2 linked regions of the Homo sapiens genome follow. The protein of the gene in region 1 purifies or fractionates together with the protein of each later gene. This does not show direct contact. Each region holds a gene or a part of one and is shown on either strand. Other genes may lie near its edges.

The links.
Region 2: the proteins of NUP37 (region 1) and NUP133 purify together in Homo sapiens (affinity purification with mass spectrometry; 4 studies listed by BioGRID and IntAct, with this or other methods). This does not show direct contact.

Annotation. Positions count from the first base shown.
Region 1 is NC_000012.12:102,104,899-102,117,242, reverse strand, and holds part of NUP37 (nucleoporin Nup37), read left to right. Parts: intron 1-5,010; coding exon 5,011-5,135; intron 5,136-12,344. UniProt on the Homo sapiens protein: Component of the Nup107-160 subcomplex of the nuclear pore complex (NPC). The Nup107-160 subcomplex is required for the assembly of a functional NPC.
Region 2 is NC_000001.11:229,496,514-229,508,857, reverse strand, and holds the start of NUP133 (nuclear pore complex protein Nup133), read left to right. Parts: upstream 1-516; 5' UTR 517-608; coding exon 609-790; intron 791-2,699; coding exon 2,700-2,818; intron 2,819-6,755; coding exon 6,756-6,859; intron 6,860-7,994; coding exon 7,995-8,102; intron 8,103-9,039; coding exon 9,040-9,174; intron 9,175-10,551; coding exon 10,552-10,722; intron 10,723-12,344. UniProt on the Homo sapiens protein: Involved in poly(A)+ RNA transport. Involved in nephrogenesis.

The sequences.
Region 1 (12,344 bases):
ACCTCAAGTCATTTGCCTACCTCGGCCTCCCAAGTGCTGGGATTACAGGTGTGAGCCACCCTGCCTGGCCTAGCAGAATATTATTAATAGAACCGTATTTCTCAAATTATAATGAGCACGGTAATTTGGAAGTGTCCAATTTTCAAAGATTTAAAATAACTATCACTAAAGTGATAGTTATTATAAATGTTATTTCCTCCTTTACTGAGAAGGCAATTCTGTTTTTGTTTTGTTTTGTTTTGAGACGGAGTCTCGCTCTGTCATCCAGGCTGGAGTGCAGTGGTGCGATCTCTGCTCACTGCAACCTCTGCCTCCCGAGGTCAAGCAATTATCCTGCCTCAGCCTCCTGAGTAGCTCGAATTACAGGCACGTGCCACCATGCCCAGCTAACTTTTTTGTATCTTTAGTAGAGACGGGGTTTCACCATGTTGGTCAGGCTGGTCTTGAACTGACCTCGTGATCCGCCCGCCTCAGCCTCCCAAAGTACTGGGATTACAGGCGTGAGCCACCATGCCCAGCGGCAATTCTGTATCTTACAGTATTCTGACATCAAAAATGCAATTTGGCATTTTATAGCACAATGAATATATAAAGCTTTACAAATTGGAATATAGTCATATTTAAGAGGAAGTGTGAATTGAAAGTTTCAGTTTGTTGCTGTCTGAGTAGAATATGACAGCTCCTAGCCTATTTCGTACTGTCTGTTTGGGTGGGAGTAGAAATTAATAGCTTTTAGACTAAATATGACCCTAGCCTGACTTACATGGACATGGTTTAGGATCATAAAAAGTCATATGATTAAGACAATGTTACGTACTTGAAAAAGACTGAGGAAAAACCATTTCTCTAATGCAAGCCACCAATGTACAAAAGAGTAAAGCAGCCTCCTACAGGTAAAACTAATTTTTACTTCATTACTTTTAAAATTAATAACAACATAGGATTGTATTCGCAAACACTGAAAAATGTTTATCTCATTTATGATTAAGAAATGTTGAGGGAGAAAGTCAGTGGAGAACAAATTAGGAAAAGAGAGGCAAAGATGAGAGAGGGAGAAGTTGGGAGAAAGAAGGAAAATGACTAACATGAGAAAAAAGAACTAGTATAAACATTTGTGTTCTGTTATAGTTTATGGTCACATGTATTGTCTCAGTTACCCTCATACCTGTGAGATTAGCAATGTAGGTCTCGTGCCCAAATTACTAAGGAAAAAATTAGATTTTTATTAATTTGGACAATAGTAAACACAAATTATATTCTGCATCAGACATTGGAAATACAATTAAGTAAGTCCATTTCAAAATAAATTATTGCTTTTCTGTGGAGTTATTTTTTATCTAGCTAAACACTGTTAAACATTACTATTCTGTTGTCCTAGAACCTTCAAGTTCCATTGCACCCAGTTTCATGCCTCTTGTCTTGAGAGAAAACTAAGTAAAGGTAAATTAAGTGGAAAGATTTTCACATTCCTGACAGAAAGATAATCCTTATTTTAAGGCTGTTTAGAAAACGTTGTAGATATAGTGAATTTGAATTTCAATAAAGCATTTTTCAGAATCTCATGTTGTCCCTTTGATTATGATGGACATATGAGCTTCTGAATGATAGTACTGTTAACTGGTGTCGTGTATTTGTCAAATTTTCATTAAGTGCATACTGGGTGCCAAGACATGAAAAAAGCAAGGACCATATCCTTAAGGAAATATTTACATATAAAGCAGTGCAATAAGAAAACTGCTATAAAAACCTTTGTTAAAGGGCAGAGGAGCATGAACATATATGCTTGCCTAAATCAATGTTCTCATCCAAGTTCTACTAGAGGCCTCAATTCACTAATGAAGACCCCTTGAATAGACTTAGAAATCTGGTATGTATTTTACACTTTTTAAAGTGTACACATATCAAATAGAACTAGCCACATTTCACGTGCTTCATAAGGTCCTGTGTGGCTAGTGGCCACCATATCAGACAGCACAGTTCTCTCTGCATCTTCCTCTGTAAATCGACAGTAATCTTTAATATAATAATAATACTCTGTAGTTCTCAGCAGTATATTATGATTCAGAGAAGATAATGTATTTTAATACAAATTTCAGGGTAGTATCTAAATGTTTAAAACTGTGAAAGAGGTATTAGACTCAATGGTAAATGGATTTTATGTTATTTGTCATCTCTATTTGAATGGACAGAGTTGTTGCTTATAATGCTTTCAGGCTGAGGCTGAATCTGCTGCTTAGTGTGTCTTCACCTAGAGGAGATCAGCTATGGCCAGATATTTGTCATCATTAAGTTAGACTGATTTGGTGTGGTTCCAGAGATGGAACGTGGAATAATGAGTAGAATTTACATGGAAACAGATTTTGGCTTAACGTTAAGAACTCTTCTAATAATTAGAGCTATCCCCCAATTGAATAAACTTCCCAAAGAAATAGCTAGTTCCCTGTCACTGGAAGTGTTCAGAGAGGGGTTGTGTAAACTCTTTTTTTCAGATGCTCTCCTAGGGATTCAAGCATTGGGGGGAAAGAATTGAACTAGAGAAACTTCACAGTCTTGACTAACTGAAATTTGTATTTGGCCTTAAATGGGTGTGGTGGGAGGGCCTGCCAGTTTCAAACCCTTATAATAGCCCTTCCATCAACCTGGCTTTGCCCCAACCTCAAATATGCCGAAACCTTGTATAATCATTTGTATTATAGCAAGTTTTCCAAAGTATCTTAATTTCCTGCCTATACAATTCTGCTTATACCCCAAACTAAATCCAAAATAGCATTTGTCTCTGCCTATACCACACACACACACGGGCCTTTTAGTTGGCTCAGTGGCAAACAGTGCTGCCAGGAAAACAGGTTTCACTGGTAAAACAAAAAGCCCAGGCTGTACAGTCCCTGAGATTTCTTTATCCCCATGACCACCCAGTAATTCCATATGTGATTTGGGTAACAAATTAAAGGACTTGATTGTCAACAATATTGTTACAGTAGCAAGATGATGTGTATTTACATGCAAAAACTTCATTTTTAGGAGACTGATTTGTCAAGTTTGGAAAAATAGATGTAATCCAAACTGTGAAGTCAGCTATGATTAGGCTCCTAAACTTATTTTAAAATTGTTTAGTGGCTGCTGTCTTGGCATATCTGGCTGTTAGCTATACAACTATTATACACACAAATTACGAAGTAGTAAAATTTGACAGTGTTTTTCTTTCCTTGATAAGTGTATTTCTTTCATTTGTGGAAAAACTTTTTGCTGTTAACTCTTAAGTTCACCTGAAATTTGAAGTTATTTTCAAAGGGTATCTGAATTATGCAGAGAAAGATGTGTAGTATATTTGTGAAATGACTTTACTGGGATCCCATAGGCTATCCTGGAAAAATCAGTATATCTACTTGGATTTCATTCGAGTATACATTATAAAACTTTGCATTTAGATTCTGGGTGAATGGAATGCTTAGATCAGGCCTTCAAGTAATTCCTATCAATATAGACATACGTATTTCATTAAATATCAAGTTTCACCTGCTGGATTTTTTCCCTGATACTTTATAATACCATACACTTTTATAAAGAAAACTGTAGTTAGCACAGAAGATTCCTTGGACAAATTTGTCGCGAAAATTTGGCCTTCTTTAGTCTCAAACCCAGTTCAGGTATTGATTTAAATAACAGAAGGATGATTTACTTATTTTTAAAATTGCAAAATTTTTTTATCATTTTCTTTTTTACCTTTCCTATGGTGCTGAGCAGTATTTTAATGCTTATAAAAAATGTGTTATCCATAAAGGCATAAAGAGTAATAAGATGGATCCCTGTATACCTGCTGCTTAGTTTAAGAAAAGGAACATTAGCAATTCTTTTGAAGCCCCCTAAGTATCCTTCCCTTACTCATGGTAGGTATTTTGCATGGCAGGATTTTCTTTTTGTTTGTCTGTTTTTTCCTGCTTTCCCCTTAATCGGGCCCTGGATCTATGCAGAAATCTCTGATCTGGCATCCTTCCTTGTGCAGGCACTAGGATTTGTCTCTTCTCTCTTGCAAACTGAAGCTTTAAATCATTGCATGTAGGCAGATACCCTTATAACAGCTGCATACCTTGGTAGTCGTTTGCTTGTCTGTATTTGAATTTTTGCAATGTTGTAATGGGAGAACTTTTCAGGTTATTGTCTCCATTGCCAGCGACAGATGGCTTGACTTTTAAAGTTGATTTTTTTTCTCACCTTCCCGTGAGGATAAACTGAAATCATTTTAGTAGGGCTGAACTGGATAAATAAGCCAACTTTATTAAGCATTTATTCCCAGAATCAAATATCTAAAACTAAATTAGCCAGATTATTTATTACATATTCACTATTCATAAACAATAATAGTTCAGATGAATTATTTGTAGCATCTTACACACATATAATGCCACATGTAACACTACATGAAAATCATTGACACTGATTATAAAGACTTTGAGGTCTTTATAAGGTCCCAAAGTATTTTCCATGTAGTGAGAATGTACAGTGTATTTTTTTAATATTGTCAGTAGATAATCCGGTTCTGGTAATTCATTTACCTAGAATATCTTGATTCTTTAGAGCATTCCATTTTCTTTGTTTTCTTTTTTTATAACGTAGACACAGGTCTCACTGTGTTGCCCAGTCTGGTCTCAGACTCCAGAGCTCAAGCAATCCTTCCACCTCAGCCCCGCAAAGTGTTGGGATTATAGACGTGAGCCAACACGCCTGACCAAGCAGTCCATTTTCATTGAACTTATTATGAAATGCCTCCTAAGATAAAGTAGAACATGTTTACCATTTGTTTCTAGTTGCCTTAGAGAGTTATTTTGTGAGGCTTAGACAACTTTGGATTTTTTTTTAATTCAATGAACTAGTTAAATCTTAATATGTAATTTGCTTTTGAACTTTTCAAAAGCATAAGCATAACCTCCTGATAAATTCATTATAATGAAATACAGAATATTATATTGTTTGTTCTCATTACTTATTAAAACATTTACTGTGTATGCTTAGGAAGAAGAAGCAGACGTTGAAGGCATTCAGTATAAAACACTTCGAACATTTCACCATGGAGTCAGGGTTGATGGCATAGCTTGGAGCCCAGAGACTAGACTTGATTCATTGCCTCCAGTAATCAAGTAAGTTTAACAGTACCAAATGCATTCCTTACTAATGTACTTTGATTGTGTTACATGATTGGAAGTCTGATCATAGATACTTTTTTCTCAATTTCCATTTTCCACAATCCAAGATATTAGATATTTTGATATTTGCTACTACTTAATAATTTAGGCTTATCATCTGAATTTGTGATTTAAATATACAGCCATGACTATGATGCCTTGACCATGTGTTTGAGCCAAACTACAAAACCTTTTACGTGAGATTCATCTGAATCAAGGTCTTTACAGATTGTTCACTGAATTTACAACTTTATTGAAAGTATAACTTAAAATAACTAAATTTGGTTGAGACATTAATGAGCTTTCCTTCCCCACCCATAGGCCAAGATCACATTTTTTTGTCCAACAGTATATAAATCTGTAAGTTCTGGTCCTGGACTTCAGTTTTTGTGAAAGTGTTTAAAAGGAATGATGGTTTTCTGAGAAAAAAATCCTAGCAATGCCTGCTGAAGCCCTCTTTACAGGGGCAAGAATATGTTAGGTTATTTAAGATCTGTTACAAAACACTAGCCTTGCCTTCTACAAATGTCAAATCTAAAAGATGTGTCTTCTTTTAGTAGACAGTACTTAGGAACTAAAAGTTATCAACTATTAAGCTAACTTCGTTTTTTTTAAATTAAGGGATAATTTAGATACTCTGAAATTCTCAGCTCTTAAGGGTATAGTTTGATCAGTTTTGACAAATACGTATATTTGTACAACCCACACCCTATTCATGCACTGTTTCTGTCACCCAAGAAAGTTTCGTCATACTTCTTCCCAGTTAATCATTGTACCCCACTCCCTGCAGAAGCAACCATTGATCTGATTTCTATTACCAGAAATCAGTTTTGCCTATTCTAGAACTTCATATAAGTGGGATCATACAGAATGTCTTTTGTGTCTGGCTTGTTTTTGCAATTTTTCCACATTGTTATGTATACCAGTGCTTTTTAAGTAGTACTCCATTACAGTGTATCAATAGACCATAGTCTGTTTATTCATTCTTCTGTAAATAGGTACCAATACAGTTTCTAGGCTTTAGTTATTATTTTTTGCTGAATACTGCTTTGGGTGGTTATATGATTTAATTTAGGAGTAGAATTGCTGAGTCACAGGGTAGATGTATGTTTAACATTTTAAGAAAATGCCAGTTTCTAAAGTGGTTCTACCATTTTGTCTTTTCCCCAATAATCTAAGGGTGGTCTTCCTACTCTCCAACACTCATTCATTCATTTTGAGACAAGGTCTGGCTCTATTGCCCAGGCTGGAGTACAGTGGCACCATCTCCACTCACTGCAATCTCTGCTTCCCAGGCTCAAGCCGTCTTCCCACCTCAGCCTCCTCCTGAGTAGCTGGGACTATAGGCGCCCATCATCATGCCTGGCTAATTTTGGTATTTTTTGTAGGGACAGGGATTTGCCTGTTGCCCAGGCTGGCCTCAAACTCCTGAGCTCAGGCAATCCATGTGCCTTGGCCTCCCAAAGTGCTGGGATGACAGCATGAGCCACCATACCTGGCCTATTCTCCAATATTTGCTATTGTCAATCTTTCTTTTTTTTTTTTTTATTTTTTTGGTACATGGTCTCACTCTATCTCCCAGGCTGACAGCCAGACCCATAATCACAGCTTACTGCAGCCTCAACCTCCCTTGGCTCAGCCTCAACCCTCCCTCTCACCTCCGCCTCCCAAGTAGCTGGAACTACAGGCATGCACCACCACTCCCGGCTAATTTTTTGTATTTTTTGCAGTGATGGGGTTTCGCCATGTTGCCCAGGCTGGTCTCGAGCACCCAGGCTCGAGCAATTCACCTACCTTGACCTCCCAAAGTGTTAGGATTACAGGCATGAGCCACTGTGCCCAGCCTGTCTTTTTAATTTTAGCCATTCTGGTTGATGCCACAATGACATTTCCATGATGAGTGATAATGCTGACGCTTTTTTGGTATATTTGTTTCTTCTATTAGAAATCTTTGTGTGATTTCTTATAGGTTGTGAAGATGTTGCATGTTTTTTCCTAGAAGCCTTTACCGATATTTAGCTAACTTAATTGAATAATCTACACAATAGCTTTTGTCAGCACACGTAATGTCATTGCCAACAGCTGGTGTGCTGTTGATTTCCTTTTATATTAAAAGAAAGTGGTCACAATATCTAGACCTAAACAAGAACAAGTCTCTTTGATTCTTTAAATTTTTAAAGCTGTGGAAACAGTCTTCTTCCCTTGGTTTTAAGTTTTGTGATACCTCTTTAATCTACATATTCAGCTGTTGTATTCTATGCTTTCCTTGTTGCTTAGTACTTGTTTTCCTGTCCTCTTTTTAGTGAATTTGCTGTGTTTCATCATTTCTGGTTGGTGTTTTTGTTTGGTTGGATTTTTCTTATTTTTTGGTAAACTGTCTCAAGACCTTTTTGGAACTATACAAATTCAGTAACAAATTCAAAAGACATTAGCAGGCCATTAATTTTAGACTATTTTTAGAGCAACCTGAAGGCACAATCTTGTTTTCAAATAAATTATTTTTATTATAAAATAATGAATGCTTAATAAAATTTAGAAAACACAGAAAATAAGGAGAAGAATGCCACCTATACTCCCAATACCCTTTTCATTTTTGTACATAATTGTACATAATTGTGATTATACTATAGTAACTCTCTGTACTTTCTTTACTTTGCTTTTTTATAGTATTCTAAAATAAATAGTAGTCTATCACCATGACTAAGGTATAACTCAGCATCTCTCTTATCATCATTAATTTTTATCTTACATTTAGAAATCCTTCATGATGGCTTATCATTAGCATGTAGTTGCCTTAAATTCTCTTTCTCCCTGCCTTTCTACTCTTTCCATCCCTACTTGCTTTTCTTGCGTAGTGGCTAGAGAATTCATTGTTCATGTTATTTCAGTTCTCTGAGGTTTTCTGGTTCAATTAAAGAAGGACTTAAATATCCCTGAAACAGCAAGGATTCAAAGAAAAGTGGGGCAACACAAGGCTGGCCATAAAGTTTTCTGGGTTTGTTTGTTTGGTTTTATTTAGATCCCAGTAAGATTATTAATTTTCTTTTTAAGTAAGTATTCTTTGATTACTGTAACTCCTCTATTTGCTGACATTTTTACTGAACTTGGCTTCATTTTGCTATTAATACCTCTTTACAAACCCTTTTAGTTGGGATGTTTCTTTTAACAACTTCCAAAATAGCTTTTATCTGTTTTAGAGATGACATTTTGAACAAAGTTTTATGATTTCATTATGCTATAACTGAGGAAATCCGTAGGAGACCCTCAACATGAGTGATATTATTGTGGCAAATTTGTCTAGAGTTTCCTATGAGCAAATAAATAATGAATTCCCAAAATAATAATTGGACAAATTCAAAGGAGAAGAATTAGGTAGAATAAGCTTTGTTTTACAGTTTTTCTTACCCTTTATTTGCATGTATAAAATATAACATACGTGTTTAAACACACATAGAGTATGTATTAGGGTTCTCTAGAAGGACAGAACTAATAGGATAGATGTATATATGAAGGGGAGTTTATTAAGGAGTATTGACTCACACGATCACAAGATGAAGTCCCACAATAAGGCGTCTGCAAGCTGAGGAGCAAGGCAGCCAGTCTGAGTCCCAAAACCTCACAAGTAGGAAAGCCAACATTGCAGCCTTCAATCTGTGGCCTAAGGCCCAAGAGCCCCTGACAAACCACTGGTGTAAGCCTAAGAGTCCAGAAGCTGAAGAACTTGAGTCTGATGTTCAATGGCAGGAAGCATCCAACTACAGGAGAAAGATGAAAGCTGGAAGACTCAGCAAGTCATCTCCTTCCACCTCCATCTGTCTGTTTTTTCTAGTTGTGCTGGCAGCCAGTTGGATCGTGCCCACCCACATTATGGGTGTGTCTTCCTGAGGGTGGGTCTTCCCCTCCCACTCCACTGACTCAGATGTTAATCTCTTGACACCCAGATACACCCAGAAACACCCAGATACACCCAGAACCAGTACTTTGTATCCTTCAATCCAAGCAAGTTGACACTTAATATTAACCATCACAGAGTATATATGTGCATTTTAACATGTTTATTATAAAGTAAACATTCATGAAATCACAGAGGTCAAGAGATAGGACATTACTAACACTTGAGGCTGCCAGTGTGCCCCTCTCCAATCAGCCTTCTTCCTTCCCCTTAAAGGCTATCAGTTTCATGTTTATTAGGATAATCATCTCCTTGCTTTTTTTTATAGTTTTATCAGTTACTGATGCATCCTTAAGCAATATAGCTTAATTTTGCCTGCTTATGAACTTTCTTATGAATATAATAATACTATATGTATTTTTTTGTCCTGCTTTGTTCACTTCACATTATATATATGAGATTCATCCAAGTTTCTACTTGTAGATCTAGTTATTTATTACTATGTAGTATTTCATTGTGAGTCTGTTACAGTTTATGCATTCTATTAATACTATATTTGCAGTTTGGGGTTATGAATGTACTGTTTGAGCATTACTGTGTGTATATATCATAATGTCCATGTGCACACTTGGACCACCCTTAACATACTTGAAACATTTTCCCCCAACAGCCGACACGTATTTCTTCAGTGTTTCTTAGGCCTTTTCTTTCGCCTCCTTTTCCCCTTTTTTTTCCTTGTCTTGTCCACTTGTGAAAGAAGTGTGAAGAATGGTTGGGGAGATAGACTGACAGGACAACCAAAGGGAAGCTGACTAGCCTAGACAGGGGATGTTGAACTAAATTGGGCAAAGTTCTGATATCAAAACTTGGGCATTAGCAACCTATCATACCATGTGTGTGCCAAATGCAGCATAGGAGGGGATTATTTTTTTTCTTAACGTGTTGCCATTGTTACCGAAATACAAGGGGTTGGTCTAGGCCCTGTTGCATACCACACAGAAAGCCAGTGACTAAGACAACAAGTATTGCAAGGGAAGAAGGCTTTATTCAGGTGCTGCAGCTGAGGAGACAGGAGATAAGTCTCAAATCCATCTCACTAACCCACTAAAATTAGGGGTTTATATAGCAGGGAAGAAATGCAACTACATGTGGAAAGACAGGAATTGTGGGGTGTAAGGAACCAGTCATGACAAACGAGGGGTCTGGTGCCTCATTGTGCAGATGCAATGATCTGGTAAGTTTTAGTTCCTTTATGCTATCTGGGAGGCCTGAAGGTCGGTTTCCTGAGAAAGGAACTCAGAGGAGACAAATACAAGTTTTCAGGCTTTAAGATCAGGAGAGTCAATCTCTGTAATTATCTCCAAACCATGAACATTAGTTCTGTGGGGAAGTTGGGCCAGTTTCACCATCAGGACCACAAAGCGGACCTGGTTGGGTTTTGGCTTTCCTTGGTTTTTTTTGCTTTTTGCCAGACCTGTAATGTCCCAAATCAAAGCACCTATTTTTATAATTCATTGTTAATTAAATATAGGTATTTGTTAGGTTAAATGAAAGTAATGATAAGAGTGTACATTTGCATTTTAAAATGAGATTGATAGAGTGCTTTCATTTATTAATACAAAGGGCATTAGAAGTAAACTAATCTAGTCTCCTTTACTTTATTGAGGAGGAAACTGAGCCCTGAGTTTTTAAATGTCATCTTCAAGTTGCATAGCTAAGAAGTAATAAAGGCACCACTAGGCTGACTTGGTTAATCAAATGAAAATGTTGTTAAAATATGGCACATTTTTAGGGGATAACTTGATACTCAACATCTGTTAAGCAATTTAATGAAACAGTCATATATTTGTATACTATTTATGATGGCGTCTTTATTTCCCACTGTTGCCATAACAAACCACCACAAACATGATGACTTAAAACAACAACAGAAATTTATTATCACAGTTTTGGAGGCACATATTCAAAATCAAGTTATCAGTGGGGTTGGTTTATTAGGCTCTGAGGGAGAATCCATTCCATGCCTGTTTTCTAGATTCTGATGGTAGCCAGGAGTCCTTGACTTTCTTTGCCTTGTTGATGCATCACTTCAATCTCTTACCCTTCATATCTCCTCTGTGTTTATCCTTTTTTGTGTTCATTCATTGTTAAATTTTGGGCCCACCCTAGATCCAGGATGATCATCTTAGTATCCTTTAATTTAATCATGTTTGCAAAACCCTATTTTCAAATAAGGCAGCACTCGTAGTTACCAGGGGTTAACACATAGACTTATCTTTTTGAGGACACTTTTTTTTTTTTTTTTTTTTGAGAGGGAGTCCCGCTCTGTCACCCAGGCTGGAGTGCATTGGCGTGATCTCGGCTCACTGCAACCTCCACCTCCCAGGTTCAAGTGATTCTCCCTGCCTCAGCCTCCCGAGTAGCTGGGATTATAGGTGCACATCACCATGCCCAGCTAATTTTTGTGTTTTTAGTAGAGATGGGATTTCGCCGTGTTGACCAGGCTGGTCTCAAACTGACCTCAAGTGATCCACCCACCTTGGCCACCGGAAGTGCTAGGATTACAGGCGGGAGCCACTGTGCCTGGCGTGAGGGCACTTTTCAACCTGCTAAAGATGACACGGAATTCTTGTTGTTGTTGAGACAGGGTTTCGCTCCTGTCACCCAGACTGGAGTGCAATGGCATGATATCAGCTCACTACAACCTCCGCCTCCCGGGCTCAAGAGATTTTCCTACCTCAGTCTCCCAAGTGGCTGGGACTACAGGCACACGCCACTGCACCCGGCTAATTTTTGTATTTTTTTTTTTGTAGAGATGGGGTTTTGCCATGTTACCCAGGCTGGTCTGGAACGCCTGGGCTCAAGTAGTCTGCCCATTTTGGCCTCCCAAAGTGCTGGAATTACAGGCATGAGCCATTGCACCCGGCCATGGCATTCTTGTGCAATGTATAAATATATAGAGGTGCAAAATAAATGCTAATGTAGTGCACAGTATCCCCTTTCATATAAACCCTCACTAGACAACCAACGAAGCCAAAGACTAAAAGCTACAAAACATTGCAGAAAGAAATTAAAGACACAAATAAATAGAAAGACAGCCTGTGTTCATGGATTGAAAGATTTCATAGTGTTAAAGTGTCTGTGCTACCCAAAGCTCTACAAATTCAATGACGTCTTTATCAATCTCTGTGGCACTTTTTACAGAAACAGAAAAGCCATCCTAAAATTCAGATGGAACCTCAAAGGACCCCAAATGACCAAAACAATCTTGA
Region 2 (12,344 bases), on another chromosome or scaffold:
TCGCAGGACTTCCAGCTGAAATTGTCCCCTAGGGAGCTGAATGATAGGGGTCTGGGGGTTTTGAGCTGGATCCAGGTTAGAGACACGGATTTGTGGCGTCATCAGCGTGGATGAGACTGCGCAAAGTTGAATGGGAAAATGGCAAACCTAGAAAACAACAAATATCACAGTGCGATACCAGTGTCAGCTTTACGGCTTTTCTCCGTCCTCAGCTTGGAATGAGGAACATCTTTCATTTCACAAGAGGTTCAGGAACTACCAGTGTGAAAAGAGGCTACGTTCAAGCTGCTGGAGGGCCAGTTCCACCTAGGCGCAGTCAAGAAGGGCGCCTGGCTTTCCGGCTTCACGTCCCTGGAAGCTCGGCACTGCAGCGGTTCTAGATCTGGGGCCGCCGGCTGCCTTCCCGACCTACCTCGCTGACTGGGCACCGCCCTTAACGTCACGATCCCGCCCCCGCCAGCGCTCCGACCACAACCCGCGGGAGCCATTGCGTTTGACGTCATCATCGCGCGCCATCTCTTCCCTTAGGTGTTTAAGTTCCGCGCGCAGGCCAGGCTGCAACCTGACGGCCAGATCCCTCGCTGTCCTAGTCGCTGCTCCTTGGAGTCATGTTCCCAGCCGCCCCTTCTCCGCGGACCCCGGGTACCGGGTCCCGAAGGGGCCCGCTGGCCGGACTCGGGCCCGGCTCCACGCCCCGGACGGCTAGCAGGAAGGGTCTGCCCCTGGGGTCTGCAGTCAGCTCCCCAGTGCTCTTCTCGCCGGTCGGCCGGCGTAGCTCGCTAAGCTCGCGGTAAGTGATCTCCCTGGTTGGGTCTGGCAACCAACAGCCTCACGGGCCGCAGTGGGCCGGATAGGTTGTTGTCTTTAGAAGCCTTTGGAACCGGGGCGGCGGAATAGAATGCCACAGTATTGGAAAATAGACCTTTTCCACTGCTGCAGGTAGTATCTGCTTCGTTTTGATTATCAGTTGATCAGTTGATTCCCCACTTTGCATTTTTCATGGATACCTTTGTGCAGAAGTGAAGTACAAACTGGATTTGCATCAGTGTTTACCTACTTCCCACCTACTACCCGTGTGATCTGGTGTAAGTCACTCGTGATTTTCTTCATCTGTGAAATGGCGATAATATATCTCACCTGAGCCAGAGGAGTTATTATGAATTGCCACGATGCAGATGTAAGGTGATGGTGATAATGAGGACCTACAACCCTGAAAGATCATTGTTTAATGCCTAACATACCAACTGACATTAATATCTGATGATTGGTAATTAAAGGGTTTCTAGCTACGGAATTTAACTTTCTAGGTAAATTATAAGGAAAAGGCTTTACATAAGTGAGCTAAGAGTACTGTGATAGTTTAGTTACTAAAACTGCTCGTTTGGAGCACCAGTAAAATCATCACACACACACACCCCTCCCCACCCCCAACACACACCATGTTCATAATTAACCTAAAACTTTAGTGTTTCTGCATAGTTTTCTCTGAATTCATCTATAAAAAATGAATTTTTCCCTGCAGGAAACACAAAGTATTGTGTCTTGAAATTATGGTTAAAATTTATCTGTAAAATTTTTCAGTACTTTAAAGGAGAAGTGGTTTTGAAAGAATACACTGTATCTTTGACTTTTTTTGGCATATTTTGAAAAGTTCTTTTCAAAGTGCTGATCTTGTCAGTGTTTTCTATTCCTTTTGCGAAAAGTTGGAGAATAAAAGCATACTTTATTTACTGTGTGTTGTTTTATTTAAATCTCTTCTTGTGATCATTTGAAGAAAAACCTTTGTTATCCTCTGTCAGGAAACAAAGCCCTTAGCCCTTCTGTATGTGCATCTTCTCATTTAATTCTCGTGATAAGACATAGACTACCTTTTATTCTGGTGACTTTACAATATTCTAAATGTTAAGAGGGTGAGCAAGAAATAAAGTTTTTACTGTGATATCTGCTGTTGAGGACCATGTAACAGCTGATGCTCGTAACCTGTTCGATTTCTTGCTTGGTTGTACAGATCTGATAGTTTTTTTTTTTTTTTTTTTAAAGAGACAGGGTCTCACTCTCTGTCGCCCAGGCTACAGGCTGGTGCCACAATGCCCGGCTAATTTAAAATTTTTTTTGTAGAGACAAGGTCTTGCCACGTTCCCCAGGCTGGTCTTGAACTCCTGGTCTCAAGCAGTCTTCCCGCTTCGGCCTCCCAAAGTGCTGAGATTATAGACATGAGCCACTGCTCCGGCCAGGTCTGGTGGACTCTTAAGCACCTAAAGCTAGATGAGCTTAAATCTCATCTAAGCCAATATTTATAAAATGTATTTGACCACAACATATGGTAAAAGCTGATGTTTTATATTCTGTCTTTCAAAAATGTTGAGATCTGCAAAATGACCCGCTGTTTGAAAAAAAAAAAAAAAAAACACTGGTCTAGTTAAGCCTTATTTCACAGCTAAGGAGGCAGAATTATAAGGAGTTTAAGTGAATACAGGCATGCATTTCAATACTAGAGTCTATGGGATTGAAGCCAAGTTTTCCTAAATCCTGTTTTGTTTTTTTTTTACATGAAAAATATTACATTTAATTACATGGTAAATATGAGCCAGTGTTAATTTTTTTCAAAGAACTCCTTACTGTGAAAATATATACATAAAAAATTAGGATAATGGAGAATTTTAAGTTACAAGTAAGGTAATATAGACTCTTTTCTTTAGGGGAACACCAACACGAATGTTCCCACACCACTCCATAACTGAGTCTGTGAACTATGATGTGAAAACGTTTGGATCTTCTCTTCCTGTTAAAGTCATGGAAGCCCTAACATTGGCTGAAGGTAGGTGTCATCTTTCCATTTACCTATATTAGCAGTTTAAAATGGAGCCTAGATGTGGCATAGAGATTAAATTTATGTTTTCTCTAGTATACCTTTACGTAAATGGTGAGAGATGGGTGGCCTGTCTAGTGTTTTTTTATTTTTATTTTTTCGAGACAGAGTCTCACTCTGTCACCCAGGCTGGAGTGCAGTGGTGTGATCTCAGCTCACTGCAACCACCACCTCCCAGGTTCAAGCGAGTTTCCTGCCTCAGCCTCCCAAGTAGCTGGGATTATAGGTGTGAGCCACCACGCCCAGCTAATTTTTTGTATTTTTAGTAGAGACAGGGTTTCACCATGTTGGCCAGGCTGGTCTTGAACTCCTGACCTCAGGTGATCTGCCCTCCTTGGCCTCCCAAAGTGCTGGGATTACAGGCGTGAGCCACCACATCTGGCCACCTGTCTTAGTTTTTTTTTTTTTTTTTTTTTTTTTTTTTAACTGTAATTGAGATGTATAATACATTCGAGAAGGAGAATGAGTTCATTTGAACACAATCAAATTAAGTCTTTAATGGTTTTAGGTACTGTACAGTAGTCCCCCATTATCTTTGGGGGATATCTTCCAGGATCCCCAGTGGATGCCTGAAACCTTGTATAGTACTAAACCTTATATATACTGTGTTTTTTTAATACATACACACCTATGATAAACTTTAGTTTATAAATTAGGAACAGTAAAGATGAACAACAGTAATAATAAAGTAGAACAATTATAACAATATACCAGCAGCACTACTCTTGTACTTCGTTTGGGGTCATTAACTAAAATGAGAATATAAGCATTGCATTACTGCGACAGTTCATCTGGTAACTGAGACAGCTACTAAGTGACAAACAGCTGGATAGTCTCAGGGGTGTCCAATCTTTTGGCTTCCCTGGGCCACTTGGAAGAAGAATTGTCTTGGGTCACACATAAAATACACTTACGATAGCTGATGAGCTAAAAATAAATAATGAAAAGGTCTGTGTATAAATCTTATCATGTTTTAAGAAAGTTTACAAACTTGTGTTGGACCGCATTCAAAGCTGTCCTGGGCCACACGTGTCCCTGGGCCATGGGTTGGACAAGCTTGGGGTATACAGTATGGATATGCTGCACAAAGGGTTGATTCACAACCTTTAGGCAGGACAGTATGAGATTTTATCACTTTACCCAGAACAGCATGCAATTTACAACTTAGGAATTGTTCATTTGAATTTTCCATTTAATATTTTCAGACTACGATTGACCACAGGTATTTGAAACTGCAGATAAAAGGGGGAAATACTGTATATGCAAAATTCAGTCCTGTTTACAGAGTTGATCAGGTTTATGAAGTTTCCCGTGAAACCCCAAAACTGGCACCTCATGTTATTGGGTTTAATAATACAGTAAAATCAAGTCCTACCTCCATTTCTGGATCCTATGTAGCATCCCAGAGGCTGTGTGCACAAATTTATGACGTTACCATTGTCGTGGTGTACCTTTAGAAGCGTCTGTTGGTGGAGAATTAGTGTGGAATTTTGACAGATACAATCAACACAAGCTTAGAAAGGCAACTTTAAAGATGAGCAGTTGGATGACACTGGAAGAGCAAAGTTCAGAGCAGCCTTAATATCTGCTGAAGTCATTTTTATTAAGGCTTGAATTCTAGATCTTTGTGATTTTTCTGGAACAGTATTTTTCAAATTGTAGGGGTGACCAAAATTTAGCGGTTCTTGACCAGCATTTAAAAAAAGAAGAAATAGAATGCATCTCATATGTTTAGTAAATTTTGTTCGTTTTACTTAAATTGTATATGGGTGTATCGTGATGTAAAATGTATTATACTGTGAATAACTCTATTTACTGTATAACTTAATAACAGTAAAAAAAAAATGCTGAAATTACTCTGTTTTAGAAGAAGGAATATATCTCATCAACTGGAACTTGGCACATCTTGCCTGTAGGTCCTTGGGAGCTTTAGGGATAGTTGTTTTCAGACAACTACTAACCTTTCTATACATTGTTCTGTTTTAAATAAATAAATGTATATATATATATTGGTATATATGTGTATATTTTTCCCCTCTAAAAATTTCAGTTTACATTTAAACCTTTTAATGTACTACTCATATTTTAACAGACTAGATTAAATAACACAGCCCCAAATCTAGAAATTCAGAGAGTCCTTAGAAATTAGGATATATAAAACAAAGAGGTGTGTCAACTTGAAGAACTCTTCCCCACTTAGAAACCTGCCAACTACTGTTAAGTCAGCCCTTAAAGGCACACCGGTCGAGGATCTGGAGTTGTAGTGCTTTCAAGAAAAAGAAAATTACTGAGCAGATAGTTCAGTTGAGCAAAAAGCCTCACTCAGCCTGGGCTTGGTTTGATATTTTTGCTTGTACATTGTCTATGCCTTTTACTTCACCCTTCTACCTTTCTGTAAGTAAAGAGCAAAGCTCAACTTAATAAAATTTCCAGGGCTGTTAACACATTTGTGGAGGTTTACCACCAATACTTAAGATATGTGCTAATTTAGTTTTGTCACTTAATAGAGAACGTAACTCTTTGTCTCCATGTACTAAATAATTTATCATTCCTTTAAGGAGCTCTTATTTGAAAATTATGTGCTTTTGGTCCTCCAAAAGCACATTGTTTTCCTTGAAATGTTTTATATAGTTAATGAGTTTGTTATTTGTTTTACTTTATCGATATAATTATAAATGTTGCTAAATATTTCTTTTTTGTTTGTTTGTTTTGAGACAGAGTCTTGCTCTGTTGCCCAGGCTGGAGTGCAGTGGCGCGATCTCAGCTCAATGCAACCTCTGCCTCCCAGGTTCAAGTAATTCTCCTGCCTCAGCCTCCCGAGTAGCTAGGATTACAGGTGCACGCCACCATGCCCCCATGCCTGGCTAATTTTTTTTTCTATTTTTGGTAGAGATGGGGTTTCATCATGTTGGCCAGGCTGGTCTCGAACTCCTGACCTCATGATCCACCCACCTCGGCCTCCCAAAGTGCTGGGATTACAGGCGTGAGCCACCCTGCCTGGCCTCTCTTTTGTTGTTTCTGCTTACTTATTTTTTGATATGGAGTCTTGCTCTCTTGACCAGGTGGGAGTGATGTGATCATGGTTTACTGCAGCTTCAATCTCCTGGGCTCAAGTGGTTCTCCTGTGCCTCAGTCACCCTAGTAGCTGGGAAGTGCACTGCCAAGCCTGGCTATTTTTTTTTTTTTTTTTTAAGAGAGAGAGTCTCACTATGTTGCCCAGGCTGGCCTCAAGCAGTCCTCCCAGGGTGGCCTCCCAAAATATTGGGATTTATAAGCATGAGCCACTGTGCCTGGCCTAAATATGTCTTATAGGAAATAAGCTATCTGGTCTGTTTGTAACAAAAAATTAAGGAATATTAAATGTCCCAAATACACTTTTTGCCTTTAGATATATTTCTTTTTTCTTTCTTTTTTTTTTTTTTTTTTTTTTGAGATGGAGTCTGGCTCTGTTGCCCATGCTGGAGTGCAGTGGCACGATCTCGGCTCACTGGAACCTCCACCTCCCAGGTTCAAGCGATTCTCTTGCCTCAGCCTCCCAAGTAGCTGGGACTACAGGCACGTGCCACCACACTCAGCTAATTTTTTGTAGTTTTAGTAGAGTTGGAGTTTCACCATGTTAGCCAGGATGGTCTCGATCTCCTGACCTCGTGATCCTCCCACCTCGGCCTCCCAAAGTGCTGGGATTACAGGCGTTAGATATATTTCTAAAGTTGGTTATCAGAGTTAATAGATCTATTGTTTTTGGTGTTGATAATTTTGGAATATTCAAAAGTATTTGTTGTGAGGTAGTCGTTTCTGAGTGTGCCAATTACTTTTTTTTGATAAAGCGTGTGGTAATAAAGATTTATACTATAAGATTAATCACCCACCTCATTTTTTCCTTTAGTCGATGACCAGCTGACCATTAACATAGATGAAGGTGGATGGGCTTGTCTGGTGTGCAAAGAGAAGCTCATTATTTGGAAGATTGCTCTGTCACCTATTACTAAGGTAATGGCTCTTTAGAGAGCTGGAACAAGATAGAGGAGAGGAATGCCAATTGACTTTTCATTTTTACCCTAATTTTTTTACAGTTGGAGGATAGTCAATAGGAAACTACTTAGGCATTAAGAGTTTGCATTTTCATAGTGATGTGAAATAATGAGCATGCATACACATTTGTGTATTGGGAAAAAAGTTTCCCCCTTTTGAAGATCTGTGTTGTTTACATTTAATAAAATTAGAGTCATTGATATTTCCAATGAATATAATGCTAATCCGTCTGCCTAATGAAGTATCAGACTAAATGCTATCCACATAAGCAAATGAACTTTGAGTTTGCGTATTTCTGAGAAGACAGAACTATGTTTTGTTGAACCTACTGAATGATGCTTAATAAAATAAGAAAATATGATACCAGTTGCTAGTTAAACTTTTCACTTGTCCACTTCCAACAGTGGGTTATCATTTGCATGTCTAGTAACGTATCCTCAGCAACCTTTTTCTGTTTGTTACAGCTTAGATACACTACTCTCTTCTACCAGTCATTACTTCCTTGGCCATGTTCCGTTGGAACTCAGGGCTCCTGCTTACCTCAATTCTTCACTTCTGCTGAACTCTGTGTTACTGCTGCCTAGAAAAGGGTGTATGTGGTTAGGAGTAATAGGTGAGGGTGAATTCCTGGGGGACATACTGAGTTAGCTGCGGGATCCTGATATTTGGCTGAGAGTCTAAGAAATTGTTTCCTAGGTAACTTGGTATAATTACTCTTTGGTCATGCTAATTTTAAATGTCAGATGAACAAATCAAGAGTAAATTGGGAAAGTTCCATAGGAAGCCTAAGCACTCATCTTAACCTTACTTAGTCTTCTCTTAACTGGACTTTTCTAGCCCAGGAAGAGGTTAGGATAGTTGTTCTTCAGAGTTTGGTCTACCTTTAAGTTTTCATGATTCAATACTCTTAAGATACTTTGTTTTAAAATTACTGAAAGCCTGATTAAAAGGAGATGTGAGAAGAAAGAATATTTGTAGAATGGTGTTTCCAGCAGTGAGTCAGAATCTAAAATATGCAGAGAAGGGAAATCAGATGCATCTTCAAAATACTGGATTTGATGTGAAAGATTTTCTGTTTGGGTTTGTTCTACAGTTATCCGTTTGCAAAGAACTTCAGCTGCCACCTAGTGATTTCCACTGGAGTGCCGACTTAGTGGCTCTTTCTTACTCTTCTCCCTCAGGTGAAGCACATTCTACTCAGGTAGGTGACTTAAAAGCTTATTTAAATAAACTTTTTACAACAAGGACATCCTAAAGTTAGAGGAATCATCCTCTTTGATTTTGAGATATAACTATAAACCTATAGAAATCAAGATATTGTGGTATTGGCAAAGAGAGCTACACACATAGGTCAGTGTAACAGAATAGAGAATACAGTTATAGATCCACATAAAGGCACCCATTTGGTCTTTGATGAAGGTGCAAAAGCAATTCAGAAAGGATGGTTTTTGACGATGATTTTTCTCTGTATCAATGCATAGTGTAGGAACATTTGTAATTTTAAAATTACAAATGACCAATTTGTATTGTATTGTATTGAATTTTCCCTTAAACCTCATACCTTGTTACAAAGATTAATTTGAAATGGGTCATAGATCTAAATGTAAAACAGTAAAACTTTTAGAAGAAAACAGAAGAAAATCATCATGACCTGAGATTAGACAGAGTTCTTGGAAATCACCAAAAGCATGATCCATAAAAGAAAAGTTTGATAAAATTAATAATAAAATTAAAATAAAATAAAAATTTAAAGCGTTGCTTTGCCAAAGACAAGAAAATGAAGAGACAAGTTACAGAGTAAGAAGAATTTGCAAATCATGTATCCAGCAAAGGACTTGTATCCAGAATATTTTTTAAAATTCTAAACTTGATAAGAAAACAATGCAGTTTAAAAACAGGGGCTAGGACTTGAACAGACACTTAGTGAGGATATAAGGATGGCACATAAGCACATGAAGAGATGTTCAGCATCATTAGCCATTAGAAAAATGCAAACCAAAACACTGGTGAGTTCTTATTTCTGATTTTTCTTGATCAAATAGTAAATTGTCCTGTTTCTTTGTATCATTGCCATCAGACTGCTGGTTTTTGGGTTCCTCTTTTATTGTGATTGCTGATTGTTGTGATCTTGTTTTGAGGCTGTTGCTGTCATGGTTGCCACCAGAGAAGGATCTATCCGCTATTGGCCAAGCCTTGCTGGTGAAGATACCTACACAGAGGCTTTTGTAGATTCGGGAGGTGATAAGACTTACAGTTTCCTAACAGCAGTGCAGGTATACCACGGATATTCCTTTATATTTATTGGAAAGCTGTGATTTGGCTTGGAAATAAATTTTTGTTTTTATTTTTAAATAGAGGTGGGATCTCCTTATGTTGCCCAGGCAATTCTCAAACTCCTGGGCTCAAGCAATAACTCCTGCTTTGGCTTCCCAAAGTACTGGGATTACAAGCATGAGCCACTGCACCCCAGCCGTGGAAATGAGATTTGATGACTAAAAATGTGGGGTTTTAAAGAGACTATAGAGGCCGGGGAGGGATCAAAAAGAGACAAGGAAGAGAAGAATGTAAGGATCTATGATTTGAACAGTTAGACAAGGGAGGCTCTTCTCACAGGACTCCAAAATATCAATTTCAGATAGTAGCTTGTGATATGAATTTCTTTTAGAAACATTTTATAAGATTGGCTTAAAAACTGTCAGACACTATAAAGAATGGCTTGCATTATCTTCTTTGTAGGTTCACAAAGAAACAAAATCTGGCTGAGCATGGTGGCTCATGCGTGCAGTCTCACCACTTTGAATGGCTGAAGCGGAAGGATTGCCTGAGGCCAGGAGTTCAAGACTAGCCTGCGCCATAAAACAAAACTTTGTCTCTACAAAAAAATTTAAAAATTATCTGGGCATAGTGGTGTGTGCCTGTAGTCCCAGCTGCTCAGGAGGCTGAGGCAAGAGGATCTCTTGAGCCCAGGAGATTGAGGCTGCAGTGAACTATGATCTCACCACTGCACTTCTGCCTGGGTGACAGAGCGAGACCCTATCTCTAAAAAAATAAAATAGCAAACAAAAAATATAAATAAATAAAATCTGATAACCTAATTTGTTGAATCTGAAATATGATGAACTTGTAGTTTAAAAATCAGAATTTAAAAAATATGCAATTTTTTTCTGCTACAAAAGTTGTTTTTTTTTTTTTTCTTTTTTCGAGACACAGTTTTACTCTGTCACCCAGGCTGGATTGCAGTGGCGCAATCTCAGCTCACTGCAACCTCTGCCTCCTGGGTTCAAGCAATTCTTGTGCCTCTGCCTCCCAAGTGGCTGGGATTACAGGTGCGCACCGCCACGCCCAGCTAATTTTTGTATTTTTAATAGAGACGGGGTTTCACCCCGCCTTGGGCTCCCAAAGTGCTGGATTACAGGTGTGAGCCACCATGCCTGGCCAGTTTTTTTCTTATGAGAGTTTTTCTATGTAGGATTAATAATATTAACTGAATGGATTCTGAAATATATTACTTTAATAAAATAACAACGTTCTATTTTGTATTCTTTTAGATTTATTTCAATTACGATGATTTTTCTCTGTATCAAAGAATTTTTCATTTTATCTTAGCATTCGATGCTAAACTGAACTAACCTCATAATGTTTTTTCACAGGGAGGAAGTTTTATTTTGTCTTCATCAGGAAGCCAACTAATTCGGTTGATACCTGAGAGCTCAGGAAAGATTCATCAGCATATCCTGCCTCAGGGGCAAGGCATGCTTTCAGGAATTGGTCGAAAAGTTTCTTCTCTTTTTGGAATTTTATCTCCTAGTAGTGATCTCACAGTAAGTTTATAAAATAACTATTTTACAAGCTTATTTCTTAGTTAAATCAATAAGTTGAAAGTATCCTCTGAATTTAGTATTCCTCCATATGGACAGTAGCTTATGCGAAATAAAACCTTTGGTCTTTTTAGTGAACTATTTTTATTATGATGAAATGAGATCATACTAACCTTCTCCCATAACTTGTAACACTAAAATCTTTAAATCAGACAGATTATCTCACAAGTACATTTTTTGAACTAAAACTATTATGTAAAATATAAAATGTGTTTCTTAAAGATTAATTTGACTTTTTAGATTTAACCAGAAGCGTGTTTCTACTCATGCCTCCAGCTGTCTGTGTGGATGACTGAAATCTAGATCTGTTGGCTGGACTTCTCTGCACCATACTCTAGCATAGTGAAGGGAAGATGATGGGAACTAATATTTATGGACCATCTACTCGCTGCTCGGTGCTCTATAGTTGTTATATTCATATTGTGTAATCATTGTGACAACCTGTAAGGTAGCATGCTTTCCCGCCAGTTTACAGATGAGGAAGCACCCTCAGCAAGGCTGAAGGTGTGTAACTGCTGAGTGGCAGAGCTGGGAATCATACCCAGGCCTGTCTGAATTTAAAGAACATGCTCTTTTTACTGTGCTGTTTCCCTCTTGTTTCAGATAATTATCACCTGCTTCCTTGAATGTTCTTTAAACCTAAACTTAACATGTTTAAAAACAAATTTATTGTGTTCTTTCATCTCTCCTATTGGCTACTCACTTAACCCTATAAAACTCATTTCTCTTTTGACCTGTTTTTGTTAAGAGCACCATCCCTTTTTTCAGTGACCCAGGTATAAAACCTTGTTATTTTTTGTGTCTCCCTCTCCTTCTATAGCAAACTAGTTATTTACCAGGTGCTGTAGATTTAACTTCTATCCAATCTCATTTCCATCCCCATCTTTCTGCTTTTGATGTTATGCCCTAACCTATACTCTTGATAAATTTCACCTAAGCTCCTGGTACCTGCTCAGTTTACTTACTGTTGGCCTTTCTGCCCTATCAGTGATGCGTTTTAACACAAAACAGTCATGTATATCCAGCTTTAAAAAGCCGAATATCTATACTTCATGATTAAGTATATACTGAAAAGGCAAAATAACACTCCTCTTCATGACTAACTACATACATTCTGCCAAATGCATTCAAACACAATTCTGTGTTCAGAAGCTATTGATAATATCTCCCTTGCTTGCTACACTTACCAATTCACATTCAACACTCTCTGCTATATGTCCCTGATTTTTCATTATTTTTTATTTTTATTTATTTTTAAAAATAGAGACAGGGTCTCAGCATTTTGCCCAGGCTGGTCTCAAGCTCCTGAGCTCAAATGAGCCTCCCTCCTTGGTATCCCAAAGTGTTGGAATTACAAGCACGAGCCACCACGCCTGGCCTCATTATTTTTCAAAAAATCCTTATTTTTTCTTCTTTTCTACTTGTCATCTACATTCCAATGTAACAGGATGACTTCTTGTTCTCCAAAGACGCTGTAACTTTCCCACCTTTCAGCTCTTCTCCTCTTGGGCTTTCCACCTGTATCCTTCTTCCTATAGATCCAACCTTGCCCTCAAGCTCTATTT